Linked DNA regions of Homo sapiens. The protein of the gene in region 1 interacts with the protein of each later gene in a biochemical or structural test. Each region holds a gene or a part of one and is shown on either strand. Other genes may lie near its edges.

Region 1 (7,050 bases):
GAGGGGAAAGATGAATAACTCACCATCTTTTTTTTTTTTTTTTTTCTTTTTTGAGACGGAGTCTCACTCTGTTGCCCAGGCTGGAGCGCGGTGGCACAATCTCAGCTCACTGCAACCTCTGCCTCCCAGATTCAAGCAATTCTCCTACCTCAGCCTCCCGAGTAGCTGAGATTACAGGCACCCGCCACCATGCCCAGCTAATTTTTTGTATTTTTTAGTAGAGACGTGGTTTCTCCATGTTGTCCAGCTGGTCTTGAACTCCTGACCTCAGGAATTCACCATCTTTCAATTCAACATGCATAGTTCACCATCTTGAATTGGAAGCCCTTGCTTTCATTATTTTGTAAAAGGTTTTTTTTTTTCTGATTATAAAAGTAATTTGATGAGTTGGGTGCGGTGGTGTGCGCCTGTAGTCCCAGCTAATTGGGAGGCTGAGGCGAGAGGATCACTTGAGCCAGGAGATCCAGGCTGTGGTGAACCGAGATTGCACCACTGCCCTCCAGCCTGGGTGACAGAGTGAGACCCTGTCTCAAATAATAAATAAATAAAAGTAATTTGTTTTTTCTTCAAGTTACCCTGCTGCACAGAGAGAACTTCATTAACATTTTGGTGTATTTACTCCTACTATTTCCCTTCAGATAGCCGAAGAAAAATAATAGTTTAGAGAATTTCACATGGGTGTCTGCACAGCCCAGGGCGGGAAGTGGTGTTCATCACCTGGAGACCCTGGTCTGGACCTGGCTCCTCTCTGTGAACCCCACCTGGGCCCACCTCTCCTCTCCTGGAGCCCCAGCAAGGGTTCCCAGCTCCAGTGAGTCCTCTCACACCCAAGGTGGTGATGCTGTCCTCTCCCCAGAGGACAGGCTGAGAAACACCGGGCTTGTGGTTGCATTCTCAGGTGTCTGAATTCTCTACAGGAAGATTTGCATGTTCTGCCTTTGGTTTGATGACAGTCTGGTTGCCCAGGCATGGCCCTGATGCCTCACAGCCTGGGTCTGTGCCTGTGGTAGGGAGTTCGGGTGCCAGCTGTGTGCTGAAGTTGTAACTGCTCCTGCGCCTTTTGTAGTTTTCTTCACTCCATCTTGGCTGGATTTGGGAGGATCATGTGTTCTCGAGTGTGAGAAACACAGGCAACCACGAAGCGTTTGACTTACTGACACACACATTGGGTTGGACCCTGGTGATGCCGTGTCTGAGGAGTCTTAGGCCGGGTCTCCACCTCTTCTGTGGCCGGCTTTTTCGATGTACTTTATCTGCAGTAACGTCACAGCCCTCCAGAATCCGCCCGGTCTCTAGAGCACAGTGGAAATTCCTTCTGCCCAGAAGAGCCATGGTCTGCCCTTTGTGGCTCCCAGCTCCACTCCCCTCGCCTCTCCCACCGTTTGCTGGTGGTTTGGCCCTGGGCTGGCTTCCGCGGCCTCCGCGCTGGCACAGGTCTTCCCTCCCAGGCCTGGGCCTTTCCAGCTGGTTGGGCAAGGCTGAGATAAGGATGTAGACTTGAATTCACTGCTAGCTGGGGGGTTGGTTTTGTTTTTGTTTTTTTAAGTATTATTTTTTTAACACATTTCAAGTCAAGAAAGTGCTTTTTAATGCCTGATTCACCGTAATGGCTGGGCTAGGTTGGAGGCAGTACTGACGTGAGGCCTGGAGCGGCCCTGGGACCTAAGCAAGGCACCGCCGCCGGGCTGCAGAGCAGGGCTGCAGGTGCACTTAGCTTCTCCCATACCCCCCTCCGCAGCAGTGGTCTGAGAGCCTCCATCGGCCAGGTACGGTCAGGCCCTGCACAGTCAGGCCCTGGGCTAGCATGATGGGGAGACAAGTGAGGCCCCTGTCTACGCTCCGGTGGGAGGGAGGCATCAGCACAAGCACACACAGACATCTCAGATCCTTTAAAGACGCTGATGAGGTTGAGGTGATGTTGGACAGTGGCAGGGGACGGGGGTGGGGCCGGGGGCAGGGGCAGGGGCAGGGGCGGGGGTGGGGATGAGCTTCCTCCAGTGAATGCGATATTGTGAGCTGGTTGGCGGAGCTAAGTTTTGGGGTGAGGCTCTGTGGACCGTGTTGAAGTCCTGGCCGGCTCTCACCCCAGTAGGCACACAGGCACACAGCACCATTGGGGTGATGTGGCTGGGGGTGTCCCAGAGCTGTGCAGGGAGGGTCTCACAGTGAGACTGGGTGCTGGGCAGTGACTCGGTCTGTGGGTACAGGGGTCAGCAGAATGGGAAGCAAGCCCAAGGAGACACATTGGCACCAGAATGAAGACAAGGCCGGCCGGTGCCTGTAGCATGTGACTGCCCCGTCTGCAGAGAGGCTGTGCTGCGAGCCCCACCCTCTGGGGGCTTCAGGCCGAGTGGGGATGTCTGGGTGCTGACCCAGGCATCGCAAAGCACACTTCCTGCCGGGGTAACTGCTGATGATTTTTAGGTCTGTTATTTCAGAATCGTTATAGCTAGGGGCCATTATTTTGAAAACCTGAACAAAAAGAATTATTCACTGTGTTAATACCACATTTAGTGACTGTTGAGCTGAATGTGGCTGAGCAGAAGAAAGCACCTGCTGTGCTGATGGCTGACTGTGGACCCGGACCGGGACCCTGAGTGCTGCCCCACTCGAGGGAGGGGCCCAGAGCAGCCTCCTTCCTCTCCTCCCAGGCGAGCCTTTCATACCTGTCCTTCTCTCAGACTTTCCCTCCTACTTCATGCTCGCCCATGCCTGTCACGCAGACCCTGCCTGACCTGCACCTGCTCCCACACCCGTGGTGGATGAGCCCCATCACCCGTACCTGTACCCCCCTCACCCGCTCCTGTACCCCCTCACCCGCTCCTATACCCCCTCACCCACACCTGTACCCCCCTCACCCGCTCCTGTACCCCCTCACCCGCGCCTGTGCCCCCTCACCCGTGCCTCTGCCCCCCTCACCCGCGCCTGTGCCCCCCTCCCCAGCGCCTGTGCCCCCTCACCCACGCCTGTGCCCTCCTCACCCATGCCGGTGCCCACCACACCTGCGCCTTTGCCCCTTCACCTGTGTCTGCACCGCCCTCACCTGTGCTGCCTTCACCTGCACCCCCTCACCCACACCTGTGCCACCCTCGCCCGCACCTGTGCCCCCCTCACCCACGTCTGCACTGCCCTCACCTGTGCTGCCCTCACCTGTGCCCCCCACCTGTGCCTGTGCCCCCCTCACCTGCTCCTCCCTCACCTGCTCCTCCCTCACCTGCTCCTGCACCACCTTCACGTGCGCCCCCCACCTACATCTGCACCTCACCTATGCTACCCTCACCTGTGCCCCCCCACCCGCACCTGTGCCCCCCTCACCCACGTCTGCACTGCCCTCACCTGTGCTGCCCTCACCTGTGCCCCCCACCTGTGCCTGTGCCCCCCTCACCTGCTCCTCCCTCACCTGCTCCTCCCTCACCTGCTCCTGCACCACCTTCACGTGCGCCCCCCACCTACATCTGCACCTCACCTATGCTACCCTCACCTGTGCCCCCCCACCCGCACCTGTGCCCCCCTCACCTGTGCCTGTGCAGCCGTCACCCATGCCATTCCTCACCTGTACCCCTCACCCATGCCTGTGCCGTTCCTCACCCGTGCCTGTGCCCCCCTCACCCGTGCCTGTGCCTCCCTCACTTGCGCTGTGCCCCCCTCACCTGTGCTGTGCCCTTTGCCTTGTGGCTGCTCCTGCACTTGGTTCTCTCTCTGTTGGTCGGTTTTCCCATTGGCTGTGCAGCTCCCTGGTGTGCACGTGGCTCTGAGTCTTCCTCTCGTGAAAACCCCTTCCTTGCCCCCGTCCTCCTCCAGCTACTACTCCCTGTCTCTGCCCCTTCATGTCTCTCTTCCTGTTTTACCTAAATCAGATTTTTGCCCCCCAACACTCCACCCAGATGTTCCTCTTGAGGACAGGATGATGCTCCTGAAAGCGGTCAGTCCACAGCGGACCCCACTGCCTCGAGACGCTCCCATCACTCGGCTCCCGTGACACCATCCTCTGGGCTCTCCCCACCCCTCGCTGCATGTCCTCACTTGCCTATGCTGTCTTCTCTAGTCTTGGAGGCCTTTTGTTTTATGTCACCAGCCAGCCCTCCAGAGGTTGTGTGGCTTCACAGACGGTCTCCAAGCTCCTGTCCCCACACTGCTGCCCTCCCCAGGCCTCTCTCCCTGAGGCCATCCCGTGTAGTCACCTCCCGGAGCTCTCTTCGCATGTCTGGAAGGCAGTTCAAAGATACGATACCAGGCGCAAAACCAAATGCCGCATCTCGGCCTTGGGGCCCCAGACGAGCCCCAGACCTGCCTTACTAAGCCACCCTTCCCAAGTCAGTTGACAGCGATGTCCCCCGGCACTTGTTCAGTGACAGCCGAGAACTCGGAGGTTTTCTCGATTTCTGTTTCTCACGTTTATCCTTGAGTCCACGATGGCTGCTGGGGCTGCGGCCTTCGCGGCCAGGAGGAGGGTAAGGGGGAATCAGTGCCGCCCTGCGTGGCCAGCTCCCTGCGTGGGGGCCTTAGTGGACATCCTCCCAAGCGTTTACACTTCAGCTCATTCCCCAGAGCACGGGGCTGGCCATTTCTAGCTTTGGAGGAGCCTGAAAAAGTACGTGCGTATGTGTGTGTGTATACATACATATAGAGAGAGAGCACGCGCTTGAGTGTGGGCTCATTGCTGCCCTAAATAAAATTAGGATGTGGTTCCTTTTGCCCTTTGTCCCTTGCCTGCCTGGTTTCCTTTGCAGCACTCGTCACAGTCTGACGCGGTCGCCTGCATCTCTCTGTGCTTTGGTTGGGCGTCTCCTTTAGAGCGTCTGCTCTGCGAGGGCACGGGCCGTCCTTTGTCGTCGTTCACGTCACACCCACGAGTGCCTGGCACAGGAGTCAGTCAATGGCTGTTGGCCGAACCAATTTCTCCCCCGTCTGTCTGGGAAATTCCTAAACTTCGCATCTCACTTTTGTCCACTTGCCGCATTCTAGAGTATGTCTTGGTCTCATGGCCTGTGCTCTCATCTGGCTGTGGTCAGCCTCTTGCGTTTCCTTTCTCCCTTGCCTCCACCCCTCGCGATGTAGCCCCATCCCCTGCCCTTCTCTGCTTCCCATTGTTCTAGAACATTCCAGCATGGAAACCCCGCTGTGCAAGGCCCCTGCACTGGCCACAGAAGCCGCACCTATCTGCTGAGGAACCCGGTTGCTGCCTGGAGTGGGTGTCGAGTACTGCCTGGCAGCATAGCCATGCTTCTTGAGGCATTTTAGCACCCTGTACCCCAGGTACTGTTCCATATGCCCCTCCTTCTCCATGAGCCCCCCATGCCTGCCCCGTCCTTGTGCTCTGCCCGCGGCTTGGCCCTGTCTGTCGCCTGCCTGCTTGTGCTCACTGTTTCCTTTCTTTTACTGGAGATATGTCATTTGTGCCCCGCCCAAGGCCAGCCTTTGTTCATGCACCAGACCCCCTGCCCCATCCCTGTGACCTGAAGAGGCATGTGCCGTCTTCTGGTTATCCACGAAGAGGCACACGCGCCGTCTTCTGGTTATCCACGAAGAGGCACACGCGCCGTCTTCTGGTTATCCACGAAGAGGCACACGCGCCGTCTTCTGGTTAACTGTGTGCGGGACCCACAGGTCCCCTCTGTCTGAGCCAGCCCTGCCTTGGGGTCTCTGGAATTGCTTCTCATCTGGTTTTACCCCCATCACAGTGCTATAGTCAGGGCACCAGGTAACCCCAAGACACTGCTGAGACCCATGATGGATTCTTGCTGCCCATCTCGACCTCTCACAGGGCTGGAACACAGCTCACCCCCTCGGGCTCCTAGAGCGCCATCCTCGCGTTTCCCCCCGGGCTCAGTCCTTGGCCCTGGGTGTTGCTGTGAGCACCGCTGCCTTGGTGCTCTCACAGGGTCTAGTGGACTGATAGGACCCTCTGTGTATACTGATGACTCCCAGGCAGGTATCTTCCCAACCCCAGAGCCCTGTATCCAGTAGCCTGTAAAACATACCCACTTGGCAAGGCACTTTGGCATTAAAATTATTATTATTAAAATTATTATTATTTTTAGAGATGGGATCTCACTCTGGCACCCAGGCGGGAGTGCAGTGGCATGATCACAGCTCACTTCAGCCTTGACCTCCTGGGCTCAGGTGATCTTCCTGCCTCAGCCTCCCGGGTAACTGGGACCACGGGCGCCTGCTTCCGTGTCTGGCTAATTTTTTTATTTGTAGAGATAGGTTCTAGCTCCGTTGTCTAGGCTGGTCTCCATCTCTTGGGCTCAAGCATTCCTCCCTCCTGGGCGTCCAAAAGTGTTGGAATAACAGGTGTGAGCCACCATGCCCAGCTCCTTGGCATATTTAGATCTGAGCTTATCATCTTAACACCTGCTGCCCAAACCAATTCTACCAGTCTCCCTTCTCTTCGGGAAGGGCAGCCCCTCCATCTCCCTTGGTCAGGCCAGAACCTTCAGGTTGGCCTTGATGCCTCTGTTGTCACAGCTCATGCCCAGCCCGTCTGCCCCTCCACCCTGGCGTCAGGACATGCCCAGGCCCAGCTGCTGCTGCTCTTCCCACCTCTGCCCCTGCGGCTCAAGTCGCATCTCTCTCTGGAATATTGAATAGCCTTCTGGCTGCTCCTGCTCTGCTCATGCCCACCCCGGCTGCCCCAGCGCCAGATCCTGTCGTCTTTTTGTTCTAGGAGTTTCCTGACCTGGGGATGAAGGCCAGGGTCGTTACAGTGGCTCCCAGGCCCTTTGCCCTGTAGGGTGCTGGGCCCAGTGGCCTTTCTGCCGCCATTCAGCCAGGCCAGCATGCCGAGCCCAGGGTTTTACTGCCACCTTCCTCTGTCTGGAGCGCTCCTTCCACAGATGTCCATGGTCCCATGTCCTCACCTTCAATCTTTGCCAACGTCCGTGGTCCCATGTCCTCACCTCCTTCAATCTTCGCTGAGCTGTCAGCTTGTGAAGCTTCTCTGACTCCACTGTTGAAACTGCAGCCCCAGCATCTCCCACTTCTGCCCTTTTCCCTCGTGAGTCGTGACCGCTGTCTCACATAACGGTATTTTGCTTGTTTCTGACC
Region 2 (2,790 bases), on another chromosome or scaffold:
ACAATCTACTTTTTCTGCTTTTGGCCTCTACAATTGAGAGCGATGGTCCTGTCATCAGATGGGACCGATACTCCTATTAACCCACAGCTTGGGACCTTACCTAGAAAAAAGGTAAGTGTCTACAGGTAAAATTAGGACTTTTATTAAATAGGGTGATCTGCCTGATCCCTGCTATTAGCAGCAGTAAGTTAGGAAAACAAATGACAGTGAAAATGTTTGCCTAAGGAAAGCAGCAGAGCACCCCTCAATCCTTCACTGACCTACTTGTATCAGCTCCCGTTTTCAGAATCAAGTTTAACAAATGGCTACGTCTATAAGGAGCTTGAAGGGACTGGGGATACACCAGGGAGGTGAGTTAGTTAGAAAGGCAGATTCCCCAGTTTTGGTTTTTGTCTAATTTTTCAGCTGAGCCCCAGCGTAATCTGCAAACTTAACAGTGATAATGAGACCACCTTTTAGTTTTCTTTAACACAAGGTAAAAAAAGAAGAGGGTCATTTCATGGGGAAGTAGCAATACAGGTATTTTATTTCACATTTTATTAGTAGACAGATGGGCAGAAAAAGACAAAATAAACCACTAAAGGGGAAGTCAACACAAAATCCGTCAGATAATCTTTTCTCATAAGTTAAACTGAAGCAAAACATCTACAATTTCAGCTAAAACTATTAAAGTCAGGTGTGTCCTGCTGGTTTCAGAATAGTTGAAAATTGCATCTGAATCCTTTTAGTTGTAAATGTAAACCTTGTTTGTTTTATCAGGATGGGAGGGGTGGAGAGTTCCTTTCCAGTGGAGAGCTGCACATTTCCCCTTCCAATCAGTTTCTTACAACATGTGCCCCAAACGTAAGGAAACCAGCAAGTAAAGAAGCAATTTGCCAGGGTAAGGGAAAGAAGGTTCTACAAAAAAGTTTGACTAATAGAAAATAACTCTGGAATGATTGATAAAAGGAGAAGGGGGGAAGACTGAAAGAATCAACAGCAGAATCATATACTTCTCCACCCAGCCTCAAAATACACAGAACTGAAGAGCATCTAGTGAGGCCTCAATTAGAACTAAAAGGAATCTAAAAATGCAGGATTTTGAGTTCATGTCACATCAAATAATAAGCAAAACTGTACGTACATGGTTCCGGATTGAGCCTGAGACCTCCACTCCCAGAAGGGGGAAAAAAAATTACAAACTCAAGTATTTTCCACAGGGATGTGTTCTCAGGGACAGAGCTCTGGAACCAGCCTCTGGGTTTCGTTCAGTCAGTCTAAAATACCAGAATGTCCACCTGCTAGCAAGAGACTTACCCAGTCTTCTGGAACTGATTGTACTCATCAGAGGCAAACCCAGCCCTTGACACTTTTAACACCCCAAAGGGCTGAAAGGTACAACCTCCACTTGGCGCTCCGGCTCCCTGAGTCAATGTCTAACAGAGGCCAATAGGGCCTGATGGAACAGCTGTGCAGCAGAGCACCTCCCGCAATGCCAGGGTGCTGGGGCTGCCCTGGGAGTGAGATGCTTTAGCAAAGGGGAATGAAAGGCTTAATTTTAGGGCTCCAAGAGAATAAGACCAAGCTACTGGCTGTAAACTTGCATGGGGGTTTGGGGGCATTTTGGGGGAGGTAAATCAGCACTGTGAGAGGCTTTGGCTCCACAAGATTTGCAGGTTAATCTGGAAGCATTACTTACAAAGTATGGGGAGTAAAAAGGTAGTTCCAACATCTATGAGAGTTTGTAATCAGGTAACTTGACAATGTATTACGAAGCTGCTCTGTTCCATGGATCTGACTAAAATCACTAGATTCTGGGTGCAAGTAGCAACCCTGGCCCTGTGGAGATCACAGATTCTGGGACCAGGCTCAACAGTGTCCCCTAAGAGCCTTGCTTGTTAAACAGTCCCATTTCATACCAGACCAAACTTTAGAGGCTGGGAAGGGCTGCTGGGACCAAACTTTAGAGGCCGGGAAGGGCTGCTGGGAAGAAGTCATGTGTTTGGGAGTTTGAAGAGTGAAAACCCTGAGATCAGAATGGAAGGAGGAGCTAAGGAAGTAAGCGTCACCTACTCTGGCCATCCTAGGATCCCTCCTGCCCCGTCCCTAATCTGCCCTTTGGTTCTTTCTGAGTTACGAGCCAAAGGAGGAGTTGACACTAGTGCCCAGGGGTCTGAAATAGGACTACAGTCAGTCCTTGCTGCATTTTCCTTCTGAAATCTGATTTTACATTATAGCGGTTTCCTCCAAATAATGCCCTCCTATGATCTGGTGCACCCCCATAACAACCAAAAATTACCTTCAAGTTCTGAAGTCTCCTGGATGGTGAAGGCTGCTGGATCTCAATATTGATTGAAGCAACACGATTGAGATCTGGAAAATCAAAGCTGCAGCAAGTGCATTGCAGGAAGATCTAGCCTTATCTGGCCTAAAAACTGCCTGCAGTCAACTCCCTCAGCCCTGCCACAATTTCTATGCATAATTCTGCTTGCACTCCACAGCCTAAGTATGTTGAAAGGAGAAAAAAAGTTCAGATCACATCCAATGAAGAAGGCGGTAACTCGTCTCACACACATCCAAGTTTTTCACTATCAGTATAAGCAGCTCGATGAAAACCGAAATCTTAACACATGCACCTAGGATTAATACTGAGTAATTAAAAGTGGCTACTTAAAAAACAAAAACAAAACGTCATGGTACGAGTGTATTTTTGATGGGAAGGCCATGCTAAATCTATAAAACAGATGTTTCCTCTCCCAACAGTGGTCACCAGTAGTTTCAACTTTTTCCCCCCAGTAGCATCAACCAAAC
Region 3 (7,050 bases), on another chromosome or scaffold:
GGGCTATGGTATTTTTGAAAACAGATGATTTCTAAATTAAAGTTCTCGGCAGGTGATGTGGTAGATATTACATTGAAACTTAAATATGCCCTTCTCAAAGGTATTTTACTGAAAACTGAGTTTGGAACTCTATTTTCAAGTTTAAAGGGAAGATTTTTGGGCTTCTGAATATACCTGTCTGGGCAAATGATTCTGATAACCTGAGAGGCTCTAATTGGGACCCCTCTGTCAGGACTTTGGACCTCATTCTCTGAGATTACTTGTGGTAATACTTGCAAGAATCTGGTATGAATAAAACAGAATTTTTGAGGACTATATAGAACACATCATTGCATCATACTGGTGAATGACTGTTGCAGAAGCATCCTTTAGCCAACCTAAAGGGATTGGTTCAGTTTCTGAGGATGAATGTTTTATGTTAAAATTTTTTTTTCATCTCTGAAGTTGTGAGCAGACAGCTATATACTAAATGAGCTGTTAGGATAGTTTGTGATGGAAACTGATCATACATAAATAAGAGTTTAGTTAGTAAGCCCATTGACAACCCTTTTCTAGTCTCAGCACCCTTATTCCAGATTGTAAATACTGCCTGATTGCTGGCTGGGAGATAGTCCTGCAGTGAGCCCTAAAATTTCTCAGGTGGTCTAAATCACCTTTAAGTAGCTTGAAATTCTTTTACATAAAATTTCTCTCGTTAATCTTTTTTAAAATGCAAGTTTCTTAATGCAGATACACTTGGGGAAATGAGGATAGTATGGGCTGGTCTCTCATACCTGGTGAATTGGTTTGTGCTCTGCCATTTAATCCACCTCTGGCCAAATCCGTCAGCCTGACAACAGGAATATCTTTTTTTTTTTTTCTTTTAAATGGGGTTGGACTGGTATCAGGCCTGCAGCAGAGAACAATAATGGAATATAAGGCTCTGAGAGGGAAGTGCAGGCTTCGACTTGGTGCCATAGACAGTTAGGGAATATTGGTGGTTCAGGGACAACATAGGTGTAATAGAAACATGAAGAGGCAATAAGAACCAGGGAGAATACTGAAGAGCTCTGCCGAGGCCAAGACATTCCTCTCCCTGGAGACTGACTCTAGACTTCTCTTCATGCCTTTGGAATTAGAAACCTTAGGGTGGTAGATAGGAGGGTGGGGAGTGATCCAGAGCCTGCAGTGAGGTGTCCAAGGTAAGAGGAATAGAGATCACAGCTTCTGTCATTTAGTTGTGCCAGCCTTTCAGTGAGAGTTTCCCTGTGAGCACGAAGTTTGGTCTAAGTTCATTGTGGTTAATGTAGGCTGGTGGTCATTCCCAGTGTGCCTCGATCTAATTTGTATAGTGCACTGGTGCTTCTAAAACTTCACTCATACACATGTGCACTCTTATTTTTCAGATGGATTCACGATTTTACTTAAGTAGATTTATCTTAGGCAGTGATATTTGTGTAGTCCTACATGTGGTATGTAGGTATTAGGTATAATAAACTACATGTTAAAATAAATTCATAACAATTAAAATATTAGTTTACATACTAGCTAAAATTACCATTCGCATCAGTGGTATGGGAGCGGTGCTTTGGATAACCCTGGCTTAACAGGGTTAACTACTGTATGGTTAACTTTTAGTGATTTGATTTGTGAGTATATGCCTTTTAGCATTTTTTTCCTATTGGCAAATTTATATTGTTTCCCATTAGCACCTCTGTGGTGGAAGGGAAAAACAGAAAAGAACTATTTATCATGTTTTGCTGGTATTCTGCACTCATACTTTGTGAAAGAAAATTAGGCAGAAACAGTTGGTAATGGTTTCAGGACACATTTAAAAGTATACTTGGGAAAATTGCAGTTTTTGTAAGAGTAAAGGACATGCAGTATTCTTTTCTGATTATTTTTAGACTAACGGAGTTCTAATGTGGTTTCTGAAAGTGACTTTCAAGGAATTTTCTAAATTTAAAATTTATTTATTAATTTTTAGTAAGTCATACATTCAAATGGTATCCATTCAAACAATGAAAAAGATAACCCAGTGAATAGTACATTCAAATGGTATAAACTCAAATGATAAAAAAGGACACCCATTGAAAAATCTTTCTACTCTTGTTCCTGGACCACCTGGTTGCCCACTTCACAGACATAAATGCCAGTCTCCAGAAAAAAAATTTTTTTGTTGTTTTTTGAGACAGCCTCCCTCTGTCACCCAGGCTGGAGTGCAGTGGTGCGATCTTAGCTCACTGCAACCTCCGCCTCCTGGCTTCAGGCAATTCTCCTGCCTCAGCCTCCTGAGTAGCTGGGATTACAGGCACCACCTGCCACCATGCCTGGCTAATTTTTGTATTTTTAGTAGAGACGGGGTTTCAACATGTGGGTCAGGCTGGTCTTGAACACCTGACCTCAAGCAGTCCACGCGCCTCGGCCTTCCAAACTGCAGGGATTACAGGCGTGAGCCACTGCGCCCGACCTCCAGAAAAAATTTTAAAAGAATCCAGTGAAATGACGATTTGTCACTTTTCCTTTTTTCTTTAACGCATCAGATATGTATTTCCATTTACTATGATTAAGGCTTAGTGTTATCTCACTTTGCAAGTTGGTAAAGATGTCTTCATCTGTGGGAGTGATCAACATATACTGTATTAGCACCTAAAACTCCTTTGGTGTGTGTGTATGTTGTGACTTCTAGTAGTAAAACTCATGTAAACCATAACTCCTACCCTTATCTCTTTGGTGAATCAAAGAAACTGTTGAAACTTTGGTTACCAGTTGGAGAACTGCTTTCTTTTTAAAAATGTGAAGGTAACAAATGAGAAGGTAAGTAGGCAAGTAAAACATGAAAAACAAAAAAAGAAACTTGTGGAGGTCACATTTTTAACTCATTGCTGTGGTATGATATTGCATCAGTACACAAAAACCAGAGGTTGAGGGTCGCATGTTAGGTATAATCTTCCAATCTAGAATTTGGGTTGTGTATATTAAACACATGTGTTGAAAAGTATGCTTATTTGTATATATGAATGATCTGTGCTTTTTCAGAGCCGACCAGTGTTGAATATATTGTTTTGAATGAAAGTAAATGTATTATATCGGGGCTTGGTAGACTTGTAGCTTGTTTACCTTTTTAGCCTTATTCTTTGGTGTGCATGGAGTAGGCCTCATAGCCAGGTTGCCCATTTGTTACCCAGACTTTTGCTAAATACTAACAAGACACTCTTGAGAGAATAGTGACTTTGTTTTGAATACAATTTGATATCTGTTTTTAACATCTAGTCTGGAAAATAGTATATCAGTAGGTCATAAATAAAAGTTTGGGAGGACATTGTTCAAACATTCTAAGAGAAGAACAGACTGGTTCTCAAGTTATTTAGGCCATTTTAGGTGGTAAGAATAAAAAGTCAGTATATTGGTGTTTCCAGTTGGGTTTAGAAGTAGATTTAACTTTGTTAGCCATTCTTTTTCCAGACGTACTCTGGAGATAATTAATTCTTTTTTATTTGGCACCGTATTCATTTAGACTGGCAGGTGACATAATAGTGTTCATTAAAATGGAATTTGTTGATGTATAAATAGGCTGAGGTTAGGGCTAGGCTGGCTCCAGGGGCACCAGGCATGTCATCAGGACTGATCTTGTTCTCTTCTGTCAACTGTTGGCTTTATTTTCAGGGTAGTTTTCTTCACATGGGGTAGAGATGACCAATGGAGCTCAAAAGACAGGAACATGGCCATTTTGTTGGAGATACTCCAGGGAGTACCTTTATTATTCCGTTATGGATCCTTTCCCTGAATCAGTAACTGGGACCAGGGAGTGAGGTCTTCTGGCCACCTTGAGCTGTGCTCACCCCCTCAGGAGGTATATGGCCTTATAATACACTGTTCATCAGGTAAAGAGACAGTTCTAGAAAGGAACACTTAAACCCAGACAGAGTAATATATGTCTATTACAGTGCAACAGCTACATGTTATATCAGTAACATTCTCTGAGATGTTTTCCTGACTAGCCTCGCCTTCTCAGCTTTTGCCTGGCCTCCTAACTATAATGCTCATATAATTCAAGTAGTGAGTTGTTAGTATGACTTAATCTATAGACTAGAGAATACAACTTGGTTCATGTTCCTCTAGAACTTTTTTGAAATTACTTTAATGCTTGACATAGTAAAGTAATTTTCCTAAAGTTATTTTATTTCTAAAGTAGTTTCTAACTCTGGATAATAACATTGGTAAGGAGAAACTTGCCAACACTTCTGTGATACTGTCATACTAGAGCTAATAGAGAAGTTTCTGTTGTTTTCATGTCTTAGTCTCTTAGTCTTTAGGATGATGAAAATGGTGTTTTAGCAAACTGTTCACTTGGAATATTAAAACTAACTTATTTTTATTTAGGGCCCTGCTTCTTCATCTGTAAGGCTTCCAAAATCTTTAAAAATGATCCAAAAATGCAGTTTAGGGAGAAAATTGTGGAGGGCCCTGGCTCTGAGCTATGTGTACTTGGAGACCCGTGGTACTTCCAGGAGATGATGCTCTCTAACTGGACGTTTCCTTGAAAGCTCTGAGAGTAGCAGACACTTCTGGCCATTCTCTTTAGATTAGATGTTAACTCAACCCTTCAGAGAACAAAGACTAGACTGTCTGGCAGGACTCGAGGATTTTGAGAAATACAGTATGCTTTCACCTTATATGGGTGTGGTGATTGTGTGGCTGAGCTCAAAATGGTTGTTTGGGAATGTCGCTTGGAGAGGCCATAGGCTTATATTACCAAGTCTTTCTCCACTTAAGATGGAGGCCTGGATGGTGATTTCGTCTGTTATGGGGGCACAATGTAGTGTCAGGCTGTGTGTTATTTATGATGAGTTTGTTGTATCTGCAGAATTCATATAGGTTTAATTCATCTTATTGATACATGAAGACATTTGGGAGGAGATGAGGAGAGAATCTTTTAAAAGAAACATTATTCATGGCCCTGGTCCTCCAGGAACTTGGAGGCTAATTGAGAAGATGAATCTGTATTTGTGGAATAGTACCTAAAATTTTGACCCTGGGCCCAGGAGGTCTGGGTTTGAATCCTTGCACTGCCAATTTACTGGTTCTACAATCTTTTTTTTTTTTTTTGGAGACAGAGTCTCACTCTGTCACCTAGGCTGGAGTGCAGTGGTGTGTGATCTCAGCTCACTGCAACCTCTGCCTCCAGGGTTCAAGCGATTCTTGTGCTCCCAAGTAGCTGGGATTACAGGTGTGCACAATGCATGGCTAATTTTTGTATTTTTAGTAGTGACGGAGTTTCACTATGTTGGCTAGGCGGATCTTGAACTCCTGGGCTCAAGTAATCCACCCGTCTCAGCCTCCCAAAGTGCTGGGATTACAGGCATGAGCCACCACGCCCGGCCTGATCCTACAATCTTGCTTAGCCAGTTTTTCCTTCAGTAAACTGACATCACAGAGTTATGAGAGTGAAATAAATAATAGACGTGAACTGGCTTTGAAATTTGTAAAACAGGGTAGACGTGTTATTTATAAAGTCTGTGCCTTAAGTGGTGTTAAGCTTTTTTTTTTTTGAGGCTGAGTCTCGCTCTGTCACCCAGGCTGGAGTGCAGTGGCATGATCTTGGCTCACTGCAACCTCTGCCTCCCAAGTTCAAGCGATTCCCCTGCCTCAGCCCCCGAGTAGCTGCGATTACAGGCGCATGCCACCAGGCCTGACTATTTTTTTTTTGTATTTTAGTAGAGACGAGATTTTACCATGTTGGCCAGGATGGTCTCGATCTCTTGACCTCGTAATCTGCCCGCCTTGGCCTCCCAAAGTGCTAGGATTATAGGCGTGAGCCACCACGCCGGGCCCAAGCACTGTTTAATTGAGACATTTTGGGTAATATTTAGGTGTCTTTATTACTGGTTTATGTTAAATACCACTCTGTGTCCAGTGGTCTGCTTAACATTGTAAAGAATGCTTAAAAGGTATAAGAAAGAGTCTTTAAGGAACTTAGAAGTTAGTTGGAGAGACCAGACTCATATTTGAAAGGGGGAAAAAACAAGACCACGGCACACAGTGTATAACAGTGCTTCTGGTGAGTACAGACACCAGTGAAGAGAGAGAGCCCTTAGAAAGAACTGCATGGGAGTAGATGGGCATTATTTCAACTGAACTTTAGATCACCTCATCAGTAGTTATTAATCACCATTTATAGGTAGAACTAAGCAAAATCTTCTAGGAGTTACAAAGAACAAGCATTTTCATCCTCTAAGAACTTTGTGTCCAGTTAGGGAGATGAGACTGGCATTTTTTAACAAACACACAAACAAAAGCAGTGCCCTGTAATGCACGGTTATGTATCTAGGCTAGATGCTACATGAGTGGTGTGGACAAAAAGGGGTGGGATTTGAGACAAGGAGAGACTCTTTTTACCTATGGGAAGTTTTAGTAGCAGAGATTGAATATGGATAGCAGAAAGAGCAGATGGAGTGCCTGGAGGGGAGGATGGCAAGAACAAAGGTGTAGAGGAGTGAGAGGTGAAGGACCAGATTGCAGGGGAAAGGCGATAAGAGCATTAAAATTAAATTGGAATCAGGTTTTGTAAAGCCATGGATACCAGGGAAAGTAGTAGACTGGGAAGATATTGAATTACTTTGGGGTGGGGTGGGGACATTTTGAATAGGGAGGGGACAGGGACACGATCAGAGACCAGTTGTCAGCAGTATTTAGGTTGGTTTGGAGTTGGGAGTGAGGTTTGACTAGAGGCAAGAACGTTAGCTAAGGCTAAGTGTCAACCTAGATTTGATGAAATAGGGACCTGTCTTTGGGTACTGGTGGTAGAAATTTAAAGGGACACATGAAAGGGATTTCTGAGGGAAGGAATGACCAGGAGTTGGTGCACAGATGGAGTCTGGCAGAGTAGGAGAAAAGGGCAGGAAAAACCAAAGGTTAATCCAAGGTTTTAAACATGAATGATGGGTAGATCATTATGGAACCAGGTAGAAAATAGGAAGTTTAGGAGAGGGGAAGGTGGAAATCTGAGTTTGATTTTTTTTTGTTTTTGTTTTTGTTTTTTTGGGGGGTGGGGGAGGGGGGGTCTCATTC

What was found.
Region 2: of the proteins of MAEA (region 1) and UBE2R2, one has a biochemical effect on the other in vitro, tested with the Homo sapiens proteins (one study listed by BioGRID).
Region 3: the proteins of MAEA (region 1) and RMND5A form a complex in vitro, tested with the Homo sapiens proteins (one study listed by BioGRID).

The regions. Positions count from the first base shown.
Region 1 is NC_000004.12:1,292,860-1,299,909, forward strand, and holds part of MAEA (E3 ubiquitin-protein transferase MAEA), read left to right. Parts: intron 1-5,114; exon of another isoform or gene 5,115-5,256; intron 5,257-7,050.
Region 2 is NC_000009.12:33,918,110-33,920,899, reverse strand, and holds the end of UBE2R2 (ubiquitin-conjugating enzyme E2 R2), read right to left. Parts: 3' UTR 501-2,790; downstream 1-500. UniProt on the Homo sapiens protein: E2 ubiquitin-conjugating enzyme that accepts ubiquitin from an E1 ubiquitin-activating protein, and catalyzes its covalent attachment to other proteins by an E3 ubiquitin-protein ligase complex.
Region 3 is NC_000002.12:86,723,241-86,730,290, forward strand, and holds part of RMND5A (E3 ubiquitin-protein transferase RMND5A), read left to right. Parts: intron 1-7,050.